Linked DNA regions of Homo sapiens: region 2 is linked to region 1. Evidence: fine-mapped expression QTL. Tissue or cell type: prefrontal cortex. Region 1 holds a variant in brackets; the other region holds the start of a gene. All regions are shown on one strand. Distances are from middle to middle.

Evidence for each region. PIP is the estimated chance that this variant, and not a neighbour inherited with it, causes the effect.
Region 2: it holds the start of CCDC15, and the variant in region 1 is fine-mapped to the expression of CCDC15 in prefrontal cortex (ROSMAP, PIP 0.95).

The regions. Positions count from the first base shown.
Region 1 is chr11:124,982,491-124,990,597 of GRCh38, reverse strand. CCDC15 (coiled-coil domain containing 15) reads right to left here. Exons shown (of 16, transcript NM_025004.3): 7 at 3,710-3,856; 8 at 2,464-3,471. Among named protein-coding and RNA genes, the nearest start is that of CCDC15, 32 kb to the right of the region's middle. RefSeq lists an enhancer at 6,490-7,242. The variant CAG/G (reference allele first, on the strand shown) is at 3,929.
Region 2 is chr11:124,949,308-124,957,414 of GRCh38, reverse strand. It overlaps CCDC15 (coiled-coil domain containing 15), which reads right to left and starts at 3,213. Exons shown (of 16, transcript NM_025004.3): 1 at 3,045-3,213; 2 at 2,506-2,691. The coding sequence starts at 2,682. It overlaps CCDC15-DT (CCDC15 divergent transcript), which reads left to right and starts at 3,424. Exons shown (of 3, transcript XR_948134.3): 1 at 3,424-3,933; 2 at 5,865-6,076; 3 at 6,856-8,107. RefSeq lists an enhancer at 3,010-3,553.

The DNA.
Region 1 (8,107 bases):
AGAAATCAATCAAGAAACTATTTTTTCCAAGTATGGATCTCCAAATCAGGTACAATATACAGCATACCTATTTTTATTATGCTTTGCAGATGTTGTGTTTTTTACAAACTGAAGGTTTGTGGCAATCATACGTCAAGCCAATACACTGGTGTCACTTTTCCAACAGCATGTGCTCGTGTAATGTCTCTGTGTCACATTTTGGAAATTTTCACAATAGTTCAGACTTTTCCATTACTATTATATCTGGTATAGAGATCTATGATCAGTGATCTCTGATGTTACTATCCTAATTGTTTTGGGGCACCATAACCACGCTCATCTAAGACAGCAAACCTAACTGATAAATGTTGTGTGTGTTCTCACTGTTCTACCACCTGGCCACCCCCCTACCTCTCCTTAGGCCTCCCTATTCACTGAGACACAACAATATTGAAATTAGGCCAATTAATAACCCTACAATGGTCTCTAAGTGTTCAAGTGAAAGAAAGAACCACATGTCTCCCACTTTAAAGCAACAGCTAGAAATTATTAAGCTTAGTGAAACAGGCCTGTTGAAAGCCAAGACAGTCCGAAGGCTAGGCCTCTTGTACCAAACAGCCCTGTGTGAATGCAAAGGAAAAGTTCTTGAAGGAAATTAAAATCTACTCCAGTGAATACATGATAAGAAAGCAAAATAGCCTTATTGCTGATATGCAAAATGTTTTAGCAGTATGGACAGATCAAACCAGCCACAACAGCTCCTTAAGCCAAAGCCTGATCCAGAGCAAGGCCCTAACTCTCTTCAATATTATGAAGGCTGAGAGAAGTGAAAAAACTACAGAAGAAAAGTTGGAAGTTAGCAGAGGTTGGTTCATGAGGTTTAAGGAAATAAGGTGTCTCTATAACATCAAAGGGCAAGGTGAAGCGGTAAGTGCTGATGAGAGGCTACAGCAAGTTATCTAGAAGATCTAGCTAAGATCACTGATGAAGGTGGCTACACTGGACAACAGATTTTCAGTTTGGACAAAACAGCCTTATATTGGAAGAAGATGACTAGGAGTTTCACAGCTAGAGAGAAAAAGTCAATGTCTGGCTTCAAAGTTTCAAAGGACAGGCTGACTCTCTTGTTAGTGGCTAATGCAGCTGGTGACTTTAAGTTGAAGCCAATGCACATTTACCATTCCAAAAGTCCTAGGACCCGTAAGAATGGCACTAAATCTACTTTTCTTGTGCTTTGTGAAGGGAATAACAAAGCCAAGATGACAGCACATCTGTTTACAGCATGTTTTACAGAATATTTTACACTTACTGTTGAGACCAACTGTTCCAAAAAAAATAAAGATGCCTTTTAAACTGCTCATTGACAATGCACCTAGTCACCCAAGAGCTCTGATGAAGATATACAAGGAGATTAATGTTGTTTTTTCATGGCTGCTAACACAACATCCATTCTGTAGTTTGTGGATCAAGAAATAATTTTGACTTTCAAGTCTTGTTATTTATAAAATACATTTCTGTCACGGACAGCAATTCCTCTGATAGATATGGGCAAAGTAAGTTGATACCCTCTGGAAAGGGTCCACCATCTTGATGCCATTAAGAACATTCATGAATCATGGGAGGAGGTCAAAATATCAACCTTAACAGGAGTTTGGAAGAAGTTGATTCGAACCCTCATGGACTTTGAGGCATTCAAGACTTCAGTGAAGGAAGTAATTGTAATGTGGTAGAAACAGCAAGAGAACTAGAATTAGAAGTGGAGCCTGAAGATGTGAGTGAATTGCTGCAATCTCATGTTCAAACTTAAATGGATAAGGAGTTACTTCTTATGATGAGCAAAGAAAGTGTTTTCTTGAGATGGAATCTACTGTGAACATTGTTAAAATGACAACAAAGGGTTTAGAATATTACACGGACTTAGCTGATAAAGCAGTGGCAGGGTTTGAGGGAATTGATTCCAATTCTGAAAGAAGTTCTACTGTAGATCAAATGCTATCAAACATTATCACATGCTACAGAGAAATGTTTCGTGAAAGGAAGAGTCAAATGATGTGGCAAACTTCATCATCTTAAGTAACTTCCACAGCCACCCCAAACATCAGTAATCACCACCCTGATTAGTCAGCAGATAACAACATTGAGCCAAGACCCTCCACCAGCAAAAAGATTATGGCTTGCCGAAGACTCAGATAATCGTAAGCATTTTTTAGCAATAAAGTATTTTTAAATTAAGGTATGTACTTTTTTTAGGCATTATGCTATTGCACACTAATAAACTACAGTACAATATAAACATAACTTTTATATGTACTGGGAAGCCAAGAAATTTGTGTGACTTACTTTATTCCAATATTTGCTTTATTGCAATGGCCTGGAACTGAACCCACAGTATCTCCAAGGTATACTTGCAGTCCTTACAAATCCCTCCTCAAACCCTAAGTAGCTTATTTCTTCTTTTTGTATCTCCTTTCTGCTCTATTTTACCTGATATTTTGGTAGAAAATCTTGGTCCTGACATTTGGGTAGAATATTCTGGTCGTTGGAGAGAACATGCAGGTCTCTGGGTAGAAAATCCCGGTCCTGACATATGGGTAGAATATTTTGGTCTTTAGGAAGATAACCTTGGTCTCTGGGTAGAAAATCCTGGTCCTGACATATGGGTAGAATATTTTGGTCTTTGGGAAGAACACCTTGGTCTCTGGGTAGAAAATCCTGGTCCTGACATTTGGGTAGAATATTCCAGTCTTTGGGGAGAACATGCTGGTCTCTAGATAAAAAGTCCTGGTCTTTAGGTAGAAAATCCTGGCCTTGATATTTAGGTAGAATATTCTGGTCTTTGGGGAGAACATGCTGGTCTCTAGACAAAAAATTCTGGTCCTTAGGTAGAAAATTCTGGTCCTGATATTTTGGCAGAATATCTTGGTCTTTGGGGAGAACATGCTGGTCTCTAGATAAAAAATTCTGGTCCTTAGGTAGAAAATTCTGGTCCTGATATTTTGGCAGAATATCTTGGTCTTTGTGGAGAACATGCTGGTCTCTGGGTAGGAAGTCCTGGTCCTGATATTTGAGTAGAATACTCTGGTCTTTAGGGAGAACACAGTGGTCTTTGAGTAAAACATCCTGGTTTTTCGTTAGAAGAGCCTGATTTGTGGGTAGAAAATCCTGGGTTTTCAACACAATACTCCCTTCTTCTAGCTCAATACTCTGGGCTTTCAGCATAATACCCTGAGTTTCTGTCTTAATAGGCTGGCCTTCTGGCTCAATGGCCTGGCCTTCTGGCTCAGTAACCTGAACCTTCATTTCAACAGCCTGGGTATCTGGCTTAACACTCTGGATTCCTGTCAAATCACCCTGGGTTTCCAGCAAATCACCTTGGGCTTCTAGAAAATAATCCTGGGCTTCTGGCAGAATATCCTGAAGGCCCTCAAAATGTAACTGCTTTTGTTCTTCCTCTTCCATCAGAACAAATAATGGATTTTTGAATTTTACTTTCTAAAAGTGAACATAAACACCAAATACAGAATGTGAGTTAGTAGCAATACTCTAGATTTTCCAAAATAATCGAAATATCAAAATGATATGGCAGTGAAGCAAATTACTAGAACAAAATGTGAAATTATAATCTTTGTCCAACTTAACAAAAGCTAAATCTACAATCCTAAATCAGTACAACATTACTGGCAATACCTAGTCCAAATCACAATTAATTTAATTTCTCTTATTGCTTTACCTGAACTCTGCTGAAAGGTTTGTTCTTATCTTCAGAATGGATAGCCTGCTGGTCCTGCTGGCCTCTCCCAAACAAATCTTCTTTCCCTTTCTCATCAGTTACAAGAGATGAAGATTCCTCATAGTCAGGTTCCTCATAGTCAAGTTCCTAAAGAAAAAAACAATGAAAACGCGCACGCGCGCGCGCGCACACACACAAACACACACACACACACACACA[CAG/G]CACCATGTAGCTATTATAGGAAGAAACAATGTGATTGCAATAAAATTCTAGGCTTCAGGTCACTGCTATTATAATTTTAGTAGGTCAGCATAGTCAAATGTTATACAATGTTTACAGTGCAGGACTGTATAATGAAAACTAAAAAGATAATTGAAAGAAATGACAGATGATCAAAATAAATGGAAAGACATAACATGTTCATGGATCAAGAGAAAAGATTGGTAAGATGGTAATATTTCTCAAATTTACAACACTCCCTATCAAAATGCCACTTGGCTTTTCTTTGGCAGAAATTAACAAGTTAATCATAAAATTCAGATGGAAATGCAAGGAACCCATAGTAGCAAAACACTTTCTTGAAAAAGAAGAACAAAGATGAAGATCTCATTCCTCCCAATTTCAAAAGTTACCACAAAGTTATAGGAATCAAGACATTGTAATACTGACACATACAGAACAATGGAACAGAACTCAAAGTTCAGAAATAAACCCTCACATTTATAGTCAATTGATTTTTGACAAGAGTACCAAGAAAATTCAATGAGGAAAGAATAGTGTTTTCAACAGGTGATGCTGAGACAACTAGACACCTATATTCAAAAGAATGAAGATGAACCACTTATTTACAGCATACATAAAAATTAACTCGAAATGGATCACAGACCTAAAATTAAGAGCTAAAAACTATAAAATCTTAAAAGAACACATAGGAATAAATCTTCATGATCTCAAGATAAACAATTATTATTAGATAATTCATCAAAAGCACAAGCAACATAAGAAAAAAAGAAGTGACTAATTTAAAAATCTTATGCCATAAACAATACTATTAATCAAGTAAGATAACAGTCTACAGAATGGGAGAAAATACTTGCAAATCAACTATCTGATAAGGAACTTGTATCCAGAATATATACATATTATATATATACATTTTATGTATAAATTTATATATATATAAACACTTAACAATTTGATAATAAAAAGACAACCCAATTAAAAAATGGGTAAAGCACATGCATGACATTTTATCCACAAGAGTTACACAACTGGGCAACAAGCACATGAAAAGATACTGAAGATCATTAGTCATCAGGAAAATATACTACAAATCAAAAGGACAGTGAGATACCAATTCACATCTACTAGGATAGCTATAACAGAAGAGAAGGACAATAATAAGTGTTGGAGGATACAGAGAAATTGGAACCCTCACATATTGCTGGTGGAAAACTGTTTAGCAGTTCTTTGAAATGTTAAACATAGAATTACTATATGATCCAGCAGGTTCACTCCTAGAAATGAATGTCCTAAAAGAAATGAATGTCCACACAAAAATGTGTACACAACTGCTCATACACAATCGTTCATAATTCATAAACACCAAGAAGTGAAAAGAACGCCAAAGTCTACTAACTGATAAATGGATAAACCAAATGTGGTACATCTATACAATAAATTATTCAGCAATAAAAAGAATGAAGTACTGATACATCCACTACAATGTGGATGAACTTTAAAACATTATGCAAAGAGAAAAAACAGTCACAAAAGACGATATATCATATAATTCCTTTCATATGAAATGTCCAGTATAGGTAAACCTATACAGACAAAAGGTAGATTAGTAGCTGCCTAGGATTGAGGTTAAGGGCAAGGAGAGAATGAGATAGAGGGTTTCTCTTAGGAGTGAAGAAAATGCTCTAGAGCAAATCCCAAAAACAAGATAGCTGGCTAGAAGCAGCCAGGAGGAACATCTACTACCGAGAGACTGGAACATTAGGTACACTCTTAGCAGATCTCTGGAGGGAAGGCATTAAGAGTGGACAGAGGGAAGACACAGATGCTGGGCCAAAGGAGGAGGAAGGTGGGAACCTTGAAGAGGGCTACCGTGCACCAGGACTTGTTCCTGGCCCCCAGTGGCTCCTGGGGAAGGGATGAATTGAACAAGTGAGAAGAGACCTGCTCACTCCACAGACCTCTGGAATCCTGGCAGCAGGAGACCCCATAACCCCACTGACACTTGCGCTGGCAGGGAGAGCTGCTTAGAGAGGTGGTGGGCAGAATTCCAGCCGGTGCAAAGCCTAGAGGGTTTGGTAAAGGAGTATCTGTAGTGGGGCATGGTCAGGCTGTCCATCCCCCAAGGCCCACCTTGCTCCCCTAGGAGACATTAGCCACAGGGGAACTGTCGGACGTGAACAGTGCAGGGCGATCTTGCCCGTGAGACAGGGCCAGTTTTACATGAGTGCACCCCTGTCTACCAGCCTCTCCCAGGGCCCCAGCCCTGCTTGCAGTGCAACCTCAGATGCCCACCGGGGTGCCTCCCAGAGGCCCACATAATAGCTCCTGTGCTGGCAGACCATGCCTGACCATCACAGCAGACCACACCAACCAGCATGAGCCTGCCTATGCCCTTCCCCCACTGCGTCCTCCCTCATGCCACTTTTCCAGCATGCACTCATCCATAGCAACACCTACATCATTTTACTCACATGTGTGTGTGCAGGCAGACCTCACCTCTGCTTCCCCACCAGTGTGCATGCATCCCACCATGCCACTGCTGCCAATGTGAGCGCACCCTGCCTGCAATGGTGTGTCACTACTGCCAATGCAAAGGCACTCAAGGAGACGAGCAGCCCTACCCCCTGCCCTGCACGGCCACTGCTGCACATGAACGCCTACCTGGAGGGAACCAGCCCCATGCCTGTGAGTGCCCCATGACATGCTGACACTGCCACCAGAGTGAACATGCACACTGATGCCAGTAGGCCCCACTCCCGCCGCTCCATCCTCTGGTGCAGCACTGCAACCACCACCACTGCAAATGCCCACAAGGAGGCCAGCACCCCTGCACCTGCCGGCACCCCACCACGGCGTGTACCCTGCCACGCTGCCACTGCTGCTGGCACATAAAAACAAGCATGAATCCCATTGCCACCACCCAAAAAAGCGTTTTGGCTGGCACCATCCATCAGTGTGTTGTGACCAGCAGCCTGGGAACACCTTAGCTCCTCCAGTGTGGCAGGTTCCTAACCTTAAGAGGCCAGAGAACAAAGCCAGGGCCAATACCAGCCCCCCAGATTTGGAGCACACAGTCCAAGAGTCATGAGCTGAGTTCTGGCCCCTAAAATCTTCCAGAAATGAAGCCAGTCAACTGACTCCCCCTTATACCAGAATCAAACCCCCAAGGACATCAAAGAGGATTAAAAAAAAAAATCCAAAGGATAGCAACTTCAAAGACTGAAGGAACAACACAGCCCACAAACATAAGAACCAGTGCAAGAACTCTGACAACTCAAAAAGCCAGAATGTCTTCTTACCTCAAATGACTGCACTAGTTCCCCAACAATAATTCTTAACTAGTCTGAAATGGTTGAGATAACAGGAATAGAAATCAGAACATGGATAGGAACAAAAATATCGACATTCAGGAGAAAGTTAAAACCCAGTCCAAGGAATCTAAGTATTACAATAAAACGATACAGAAGCTGATAGACAAAATGGCCATTATAAGAAGCAAACTGATCTGATAGAGCTGAAAAACACACTACAAGAATTTCATAATGCAGTAGTATTAATAACAGAATTAACCAAGCTGAGGAAAGAACCTCAGAGCTCAAAGACTGGCTCTCCAAAATAACTCAGTCAGACAAAAATAAAGAAAAAAGAATAAAGAAGAATAAACAAAACCTCCAAAAAATATGGAAGTATATAAAAAGACCAAATCTATGACTCATTGGCATCCCTGAGAGGGAAAGAAACCAAGCAACTTGCAAAATGTATTTCATATTTTCATATCATCCATGAAAATTTGTCCAACCTGGCTAGAGAGGCCAACATTCAAATTCAGGAAATGCAGAGAACCCCTGCAAAATACTACAAAAGAAGAAGACCATCCCCCAACCACACAGTTCTTAGATTCTCCAAGGTCAAAATAAAAGAAAAAATGTTAAAGGCAGCCAGGGAGAAGAGATAGGTCATCTACAAAGGGAATCCCATCAGGTTAACAGCAAACCTGGTGGCAGAAACCCTAAAAGCTGGAAGAGATTGGGGGCCTATATTAAGCATTCTTAAAGAAGAGAATTTACAACCAAGAATTTCACATCCAGCCACACTAAGCTTCATAAGTGAAGAAGAAATAAGATATTTTTCAGACAAGCAAATGCTAAGGGAATT
Region 2 (8,107 bases), 33 kb after region 1:
AAGCCATGTGAAAAGAGAAACATATCTAACCAGCACCCAGACATTCTAGTCATCCTAGGCCAAGCGTCAGATATGTGAATAAGAAAGCCATCTTGGACATTACAGCCCAGCAGGTGCCACATTACTGGGAGAACTTGACTATTGTCTAGCTCCAGCCAATAGCCGGAAAATAGTCAAGGTGTCTCAGACATGTCCAGTTATTTGAGCCCCAGCTGAGGTCCCAGACACTATGGGGCAGAAACAAGCCATTACCACTGTACCCTGCTCAAATTCCTGTTACATAGTATTATTTGCTTTATACCACTAAGTTCTGGGGTGGTTGGTTACACAGCAAAAGGTAACCAGAACAAATTATAAAATAATGCAATCCCATATATGATGATAGAACAGCAGTGTCTTTTGATGCTAATTTATTAATAATTATTGGGGGGAGGTAGTCTAAAGCTATGACATTTTTAGGAATCCTGATGGCCCCCTGAAATTTTGGGGAGAAAAATGAGTAGAAGTTCCCCTTTAGAACAGACATGATCTAAGGGCCAAGCTTTAGAAGTAACTATTCAGCATTTATTTTGAGCTGACAGAGCTATATCCGTTAATAAGGGTGGATACCCAGACTAGATATGCTAAAGCTATAAGGAGTTCTATTAGATGCTTGATCAAACTCCCTTTGGCTGGAACTGATCAGAAATTTTTAAATCAGGAAAAGGAGATATGTTTATCCATGTTCCAAGACTTTAATATTTTGAGTTAATGTGTGTGAATACGATAGTCAATACTTCTTAACATAGAAAAAGTTTGATGGTGTCAAATTTTAGGCATGTTGACACTACTGATATTATACAGATGTAATTTGAGCAATTACAAAGAGGTGTCAACAACTTAAATACCAAAATATCTTTATACCAAATCTTACCAAGTCTTGTGGGGTGTTTCCTGCATTCATCCCTTCTCATTCCACTCCTTTTTTTTTTCCAGAGATGGGGTCTCACTCTATTGCCCAGGCTAGAGTGCAGTAGTATGATCATAGTTCACTGCAGCCTACAATTCGTGGGCTCAAGCACTTCAATCATCCTTTTTCAAGGCTGTTCTTCTCTATTTCTTACCACTAACAAAGTTTCGATGCTATACTCCATGCTTAAATTATTATAATTATATTCTAATTTATCCCCAGGATCCAATCACTCCCTATCCTTCAAAACCTTTGAAGCAATTCATCTAAAGAAAACACTGGTTGATCATGACATTCACCTGTAAATATTAAACAAAGTCAATCCCTTCTCCAAAATTTCCTAAGGTACTCTACCATCCCTATTTTCCATAATCCTGTCAGCAACCATTCTCCTACTAAGCTTTCCACTCCAATCGATCTAATCTACCCTTAGAATCCTGAACCTTGCTTACTTCTTACTCTCCTCATTCTCCTTAATAGGAGAATCATTCCCTTCCCTTCTCCGATCAAATTCTTCATTACACTTTCCTGGGTCACATCAACCCAACGTCATAGCTTCTTGATTGAGCATTATATTCTTAGAACTTAGATAGAGATACCACCTAGACTCTTAAAATCCTTTTTGGAAATAGGCAGGGTAGGAATAAATCAATGAATATACATACATATGTGCAAACATAAATAAAATGAATATAGTATATTGCATTACTTTAACATTTAAACACATCTCATTTCTCTTCTGAGATCAAGTACACTGAGGGAACATATCTCATCCTTTTTTCATCCATGTTCAGCACCTTGTCTACACATACAGAAGACATTTTGTGCCTTTCATAAATACTTCATGAGTGTCTATATTGATTAGGCAGTATTTAAGATAAAAGTGGGAATGTGATGATAAATGACATTTGTTCTCTACGCTCAAGGAGCTCACACTGCATCAGGAAAAGATATATAAACAATCTACTATAACACAATGTGGTAAGTGCCAAGTTAAATTTGAACAAATAGCTAAGGGGCACAGTTTGGTGAAAGACTATCAGAAACCATGGAATTTCTAGTTAGACTTTCTCAGATTATCAGAGTTCATCTCTTTCTCCTTTATTCTATTACTCCATTTTGCCTGAATCCTCATTACAAAATTTATCATAAACCTTAAGCAACCAATTAATGTTACTTGAAGTATGCCAACTATCATCCATACTAAGTTGCAGTGTCTGGAAGATGTAGATAGTGCTTATGTCTTGGGCATAACAAGCAATCAAGAGTCTGAAGTAAACTGATATACAGATATATATCTATATAACCTGTTCCATGTAGATTATGCTCTATATATTATAGTAGGTGAGTAATAAATATTTGATTATGCCAACTAAAGCTGCAGTCAAGTTTTGGCAAATACTTGTTCTATAATCCTAATGCAAGAGCATAAACTATTTATGGCAGAATAGAAACAGCATCCTCGGACTGTTCATCTTTAAGCACCCAGGATTAGAGAAGGCTAATAAAAAGGGTGGTGGGGAACCCCACCATATTTGGATCAAACTGACACTCACATATGCTGGGATTTCCGAACTACCTGGTGAGGCAGGTTCCACCCATGCCCCAACTGGTACTATAGCCTCGTTCCTCTCAGCCAGCACTGCCAACACGTCCTTGCTCTTCAGGGGGTTTAAAGCCAGGGGCAACCTTGAGGTATTTCGAGGTTTCTTTCGGGCCATACTTCCCAGCATCTGTGACTCCTGATTAGGAGAAAGAAAAAGCTTAAAATCTTCAAATGACTGCATTAAAAGTTCAACCTCCTAACACATGAGCCACAGGCCCGTGAAAAGGAGAGAAGCCCTGGAGGCAGAAGCCTGGCATGAAGTGGAAACACACGGATTCTAGAGAAAAAGGAAGAAAAGAAGGGAAGAGAAATGGGAAGAAATAAAGAGGCAAAGAAAGGTTTTTAAGTTGCCTTCTAGAAGAAATGGCGATGAGAGGGAAGAGAAAGGATGGGAATGAGAGAACGAAGACTGTCCTCAGCTGTGGGCGCAGCGAGGCGGGAAGGGAGGAATGACAGCTGCAACCCGGAGAAAGAGGGAGGGGCGGGGACCTGTGTCTGCAGCCGAGAGTCCCAATAATCGGTATAGGTTATGGGAAGACGCGCTGAACGGCTGGGAGCCTCGGGCCAGATAAAAGCCTGCTTCTGAGGCCCCGAGGCCTGCTCCGGCTGAGATGGCACTGGCCAGGAATCGGCCCGCAGCTCGCCACAGACTCAGTCTACTCGGAGTACTAAGGTAACCGCCTCAAGTAGACCGCCACTTTGCGGTGGGCTGCTCCGTCCCGCCCATCCGTAGCCTTATGCCCGCCCTTTCCGGAGCCCGCGTCCCCTCCCGGAGCTGGGAAGGCGTGAGAGGTGGAGTTTCGAGCGCCCGAGGTATCGTCATTTCCTCTTCCTGTCCGGCTGAGGGGGCGGGGACGTGTGGGTAAGCGGAGTCGCTGGGTAATGCGCCATGTGAGGCGCGGTGGGACTGTCGTTCCTGGACCAACGCCGAGACTTCCTAAATCCCTCCGGAAAGGGATGCGTTGGGCCTGTGATCTGGCGACTAGGAGGGTCAGGAGTCCCAGTAGAGGGAATCACGGGAAAAGAATGAAAGAGGGAGGCGAGCCTGGCACGGCTTCCTGGAGAAACAAACTAAGCTAACAAATTTTTCGGATCCTTTGTGCAGCTAATTTTACAGTACTGTTTCATACATCTTATTATATTTGGACATCACGGCCTGTTGAGTGGTCTCCCTCTCTGCTGCAAGCTCTGCTGTAATCCAGAGACACTCAATTATCTCTGTAGGATAATTTATTCATTCGATTAACATACATTACTACTAACTTTTTATAAACCAGTACTGTTCCAAGCACCGGAGATACATAGCTATGAACGAAACAAATATCCCTGCTCAGGGAATTCACAATAGAGTGAGGGGAAATAAGCGAATAAACAATGAGTAAGTAAATGTGTGTGATGTGGAGTAAAAGCAAAGAAAGCGGATAGGGAGTGTGGTGGGCAGGGTGGGGATTGGAGGGATGAAATATTAGAACGTCCAGAGAAGCTGCACTGAGATACTTTTCAGCAAAGACTTAAATGAGTTAATGGAAGAAGCCACTGTGCTCTTCAACGGAGGCTTTATAAACATGTTCCAGATATAACAGCAAGTATAAACGCCCCAAGGTGGAAGCATTGCCTGGTTGAGAAAAAGTCAGGAGGATAGTGTGACTGGAGCAGAGGGAGAGTGGAAGAATGCTGAGACAGTAGGTCAAGCAGGCAATCCGATCAAACATCGTAAGCCACCATAGGTGTTGAGATGGGGAGCCACTGGAGCAAGGTTTGGAGCAAAGGAACACCATAATGTGACAAAATTAAAAAAATAATAATTCCGAATGCTGTAGTGAGAATAGACTGTAAAGAAGACCAATTAGGTGGCTATTGCAATAATTCAGTTAAGGGATTGTGATGTCTTGGATCAAGGAGGTAGTGGTGGAGATGATGATAAGTGGTTGGATTCTGTATCTATTTGGGAGGCAAAACTTTCAGGATCTGTTGAAGGTTTGGATATGGATTGTGTGAGGGAGAGATGTCAAGGAAAACTAGGGGTTTCATCCTGAGCAGCTGTCAGGATGAAATTACTATTTACTGAGATAGTGAAGATGGTGGAAGGAGTAGATTTGGAAAGGGGAAGATCAGGAGTTCAGTTTGGGGCAGATAAAGTTTTATCTAATCAACATCCGAGAAGATAGTATGAGAAAAAGTGTCTGGAGCTCAGAGAAGGGTTCTGGGCTACAAATATAAATCTAAGAGTCGTTAGCCTGTAGATTTAAAGCCATGAGACTGGATGGAGTCATCAAGGGGTTGAATATAGACAGATAAAAGAATAAATCCTAAAACAGCCCCAGGGTATGTCAGTATTACAGAGGCTGAGAAAAAGAGGAGGAGAATGCTAAGAGATTGAGAAGGATTAATCAGTAAACCAAGGAAGAAAACTATGAGGGTGTGATACCTTGAAAGCCAGGTGAAAAAGAAATGTTCCATTGAGGGCAGACAATCTGTGTTAAATCCTACTGACAGATCAAATAAGGTAAGGACTGAAAATTGACTATTGGATTTGACCATGTGGAAGTGATTGATAACTTTTAAAAGAGCAGTGTCTTTAGAGTAGTTGGAGAGCAAAAGCCTGATGGGCTAGGCAAGAAAGAGTAGGAGAAGGAATTGGAGACAGCAATTTTAGACAATTCTTTCCATGAATTTTGTTGTGAAGGGACACAGCGAAAGAGGTGGCTGAACGTAGAGGTAGGATCATTGGAGAGTTCTTTAAGATCATAGCATATATTTGTTATTGATGGAAATTAACCAATAGACAGGAGAAAACTAATGATGCGGGAGAGATATGGGAGAATTTAGGGATCTACAGTCATGTGTCACTTAAAGATGGGGATACATTTTGATAAATGTTAGGTGATTTTGTCTTTGTGCAAACCTCATAGAGGAAATGGAATTTAGTGAACAAGTGGAGGGATTGGCCTTAGATAGCAGGAGGTATGGTTAATTATAATAATAGCAGAAAAGTTAGAATACACAGTAAACTGATAATTAGGTAATGTGGTGGCAGGAGCTTATGGAAATTCTCTTCTGATTACTCTGTTTTCTCTGTAAAATAGTATTGTAGCCAACCTCCAAGATGGCCCCTAATGATCCCCACCTCTTGGTGTTCACACCTTTGTGTAGTCCCCTCCCACATTGTACCTAGGTTGGACTGTATGACCAACAGAATATGGCAGAAGGGATGGTATATTACTACAGAGGTTAGGTTATAAGAGATATGCTCACATGGGCTCGCTCACTCTCTCTCCCTCCCTCCTTCCCTCCCTCCCTCCCTCTCAGATCTCTTGTTCTGAGGGAAGCCATGTACATCATTAGCAGTTCTATAAAGAGGATCACATGGCAAGAAACTGAAACATTCTGCCAGCTGCCCTGTGAAAGAACTTGGAAGTAGACCCTCCAGCCCTAATCAAGTCTTCAGAGACTGTACTCAGCCAACAATTGACTGCAACCTCATAAGAGACCCTGAGCCAGACCGCCCAACGAGAAACTGTGTGAGATAATGTTTGTTGTATTAAGATGCTAAATTTGAGGGTCATTTGTTATACAATGAGAGAAGTAGGAGGTAAGGGACTATGAAAAGTTGGTAGAGTCAAGAAGTTGTAGGTTCCTGTGGTGGTCTAAAGTTTGTTAGAACAGGATACTCAAAAGAATGTGCTAAGATAAGAGGTGGTCTGAGAGTAGGCTGCTTGGAGCTGAGTGTATGCAGAGGTTGTGGTTATTGGTGCTGTCAAAGTCTATGGTATGACCAAAGGAGGGAAAGCTAAGGTGGGTTAAAGAACAAGATCACTGGAGAAGAGGTCATAGAAACCAAACACCAGAGCATTGATTGGATGATCCATGAGGATACTGAAATCACCAAAAAATATAACAAGAATGATGTTGGAGAAAGCCAGAAGCAACAATCTTGAAAAGGCTTGGAGGTTGGTGGGTAAGTATAGCTTGGAAACCCAAGCATGGTATATTCTGGTGACATGAGGTTCAAAGTTGGAGGTGAGGTTAAGAAAAAGGGAGGATGTGGTTTAGCAAAAGCACTGAGTAACTGAATAGCAAGAAGGAAACCCATCCCACCTCCACCCAGAGGGGCAAGGAACAGAAAACAGCTACTATTAGGTGAGTGCAAAAGTTATTGTGGTTTTTCATTGTTGGAATTTGCCATTTGATGTTGGAATACATGCTTGAATAAATGTGGTTATGTTATACATCAGTTTAATGGGCATTTCTCACTTTTATTTTTTTGCTAATGACTTCTTGCTGTTTATGTTTATTTTAGACTATGGAAATTATGTTAGACAAAAAACAAATGCAAGCAGTTTTCTTATTCGAGTTCAAAATGGGCTGCAAAGCAGCAGAGACAACTTGCAACATCAAGAGTGCATTTGGCCCAGGAACTGCTAATGAACGTACAGTGCAGTGGTGGTTCAAGAAGTTTTGCAAAGGATGGCCAGGCGCAGCAGCTCACACCTATAATCCCAGCACTTTGGGAGGCCAAGGCATCCGGATCACTTGAAGTCAGGAGTTCGAGGCCAGCCAGGCCAACATGGTGAAACCCCATCTCTACTAAAAATAAAAAAATTAGCTGGGCATGGTGGCATGCACCTGTAATCCCAGCTACTCGGGAGGCTGAGGTGGGAGAAGCGCTTGAACCCAGGAGGCAGAGGTTGCAGTGAGCTGAGATTGTGCCACTGCACTCCAGTGACAGAACAAGACTCCGTCTCAATTTAAAAAGAAAGAAAGAAAGAAAGAAAGTTTTGCAAAGGAGCTGAGAGCCTTGAAGATGATGAGCATAGTGACCGGCCATGGGAAGTTGACAATGACCAATTGAGAGCAATCATTGAAGCTGATCCTCTTATAGCTACATGAGAAGTTGCCTAAGAACTCAATGTTGACCATTCTATCGTCACTCAGCATTTGAAGCAAATTGGAAAGGTAAAAAAGCTCGATAAGTGGATGCCTCATGAGCCAACTGAAAATAAAAAAAATATATCGTTTTGAAGTGTTGTCTTCTCTTGTTCTACACAACAATGAACCATTTCTCGATTGGATTGAGATGTGCTATGAAAAGTAGATTTTATACAACAGCTGGCAATGACCAGCTCAATGGTTGGGCCCAGAAGAAGCTCCACAGCACTTCCCAAAGCACCAAAAACAGGTCATGGTCACCGTTTGGTGGTCTGCTGCCAGTCTGATCCACTACGGCTTTCCGAATCCCAGTGAAACCATTACATCTGAGAAGTATGCTTAGCAAATCAATGAGGCACTGAAAAGTGCAACACCTGCAGCTGACAGTGGTCAACAGAAAGGACCCAATTCTTCTCCACAGCAACTACAATGCCCGACTGCATGTCGCACAACCAACCCTTCAAAAGTTGAACAAATTGATCTATGAAGTTTTGCCTCATCCACCATATTCATCTGACCTGTGGCCAACCAACTACCACTTCTTCAAGCATCTCAACAACTTTTTGCAGAGAAAACACTTCTACAACCAGCAGGATGCAGAAAATACTTTTTAAGAGTTTGGC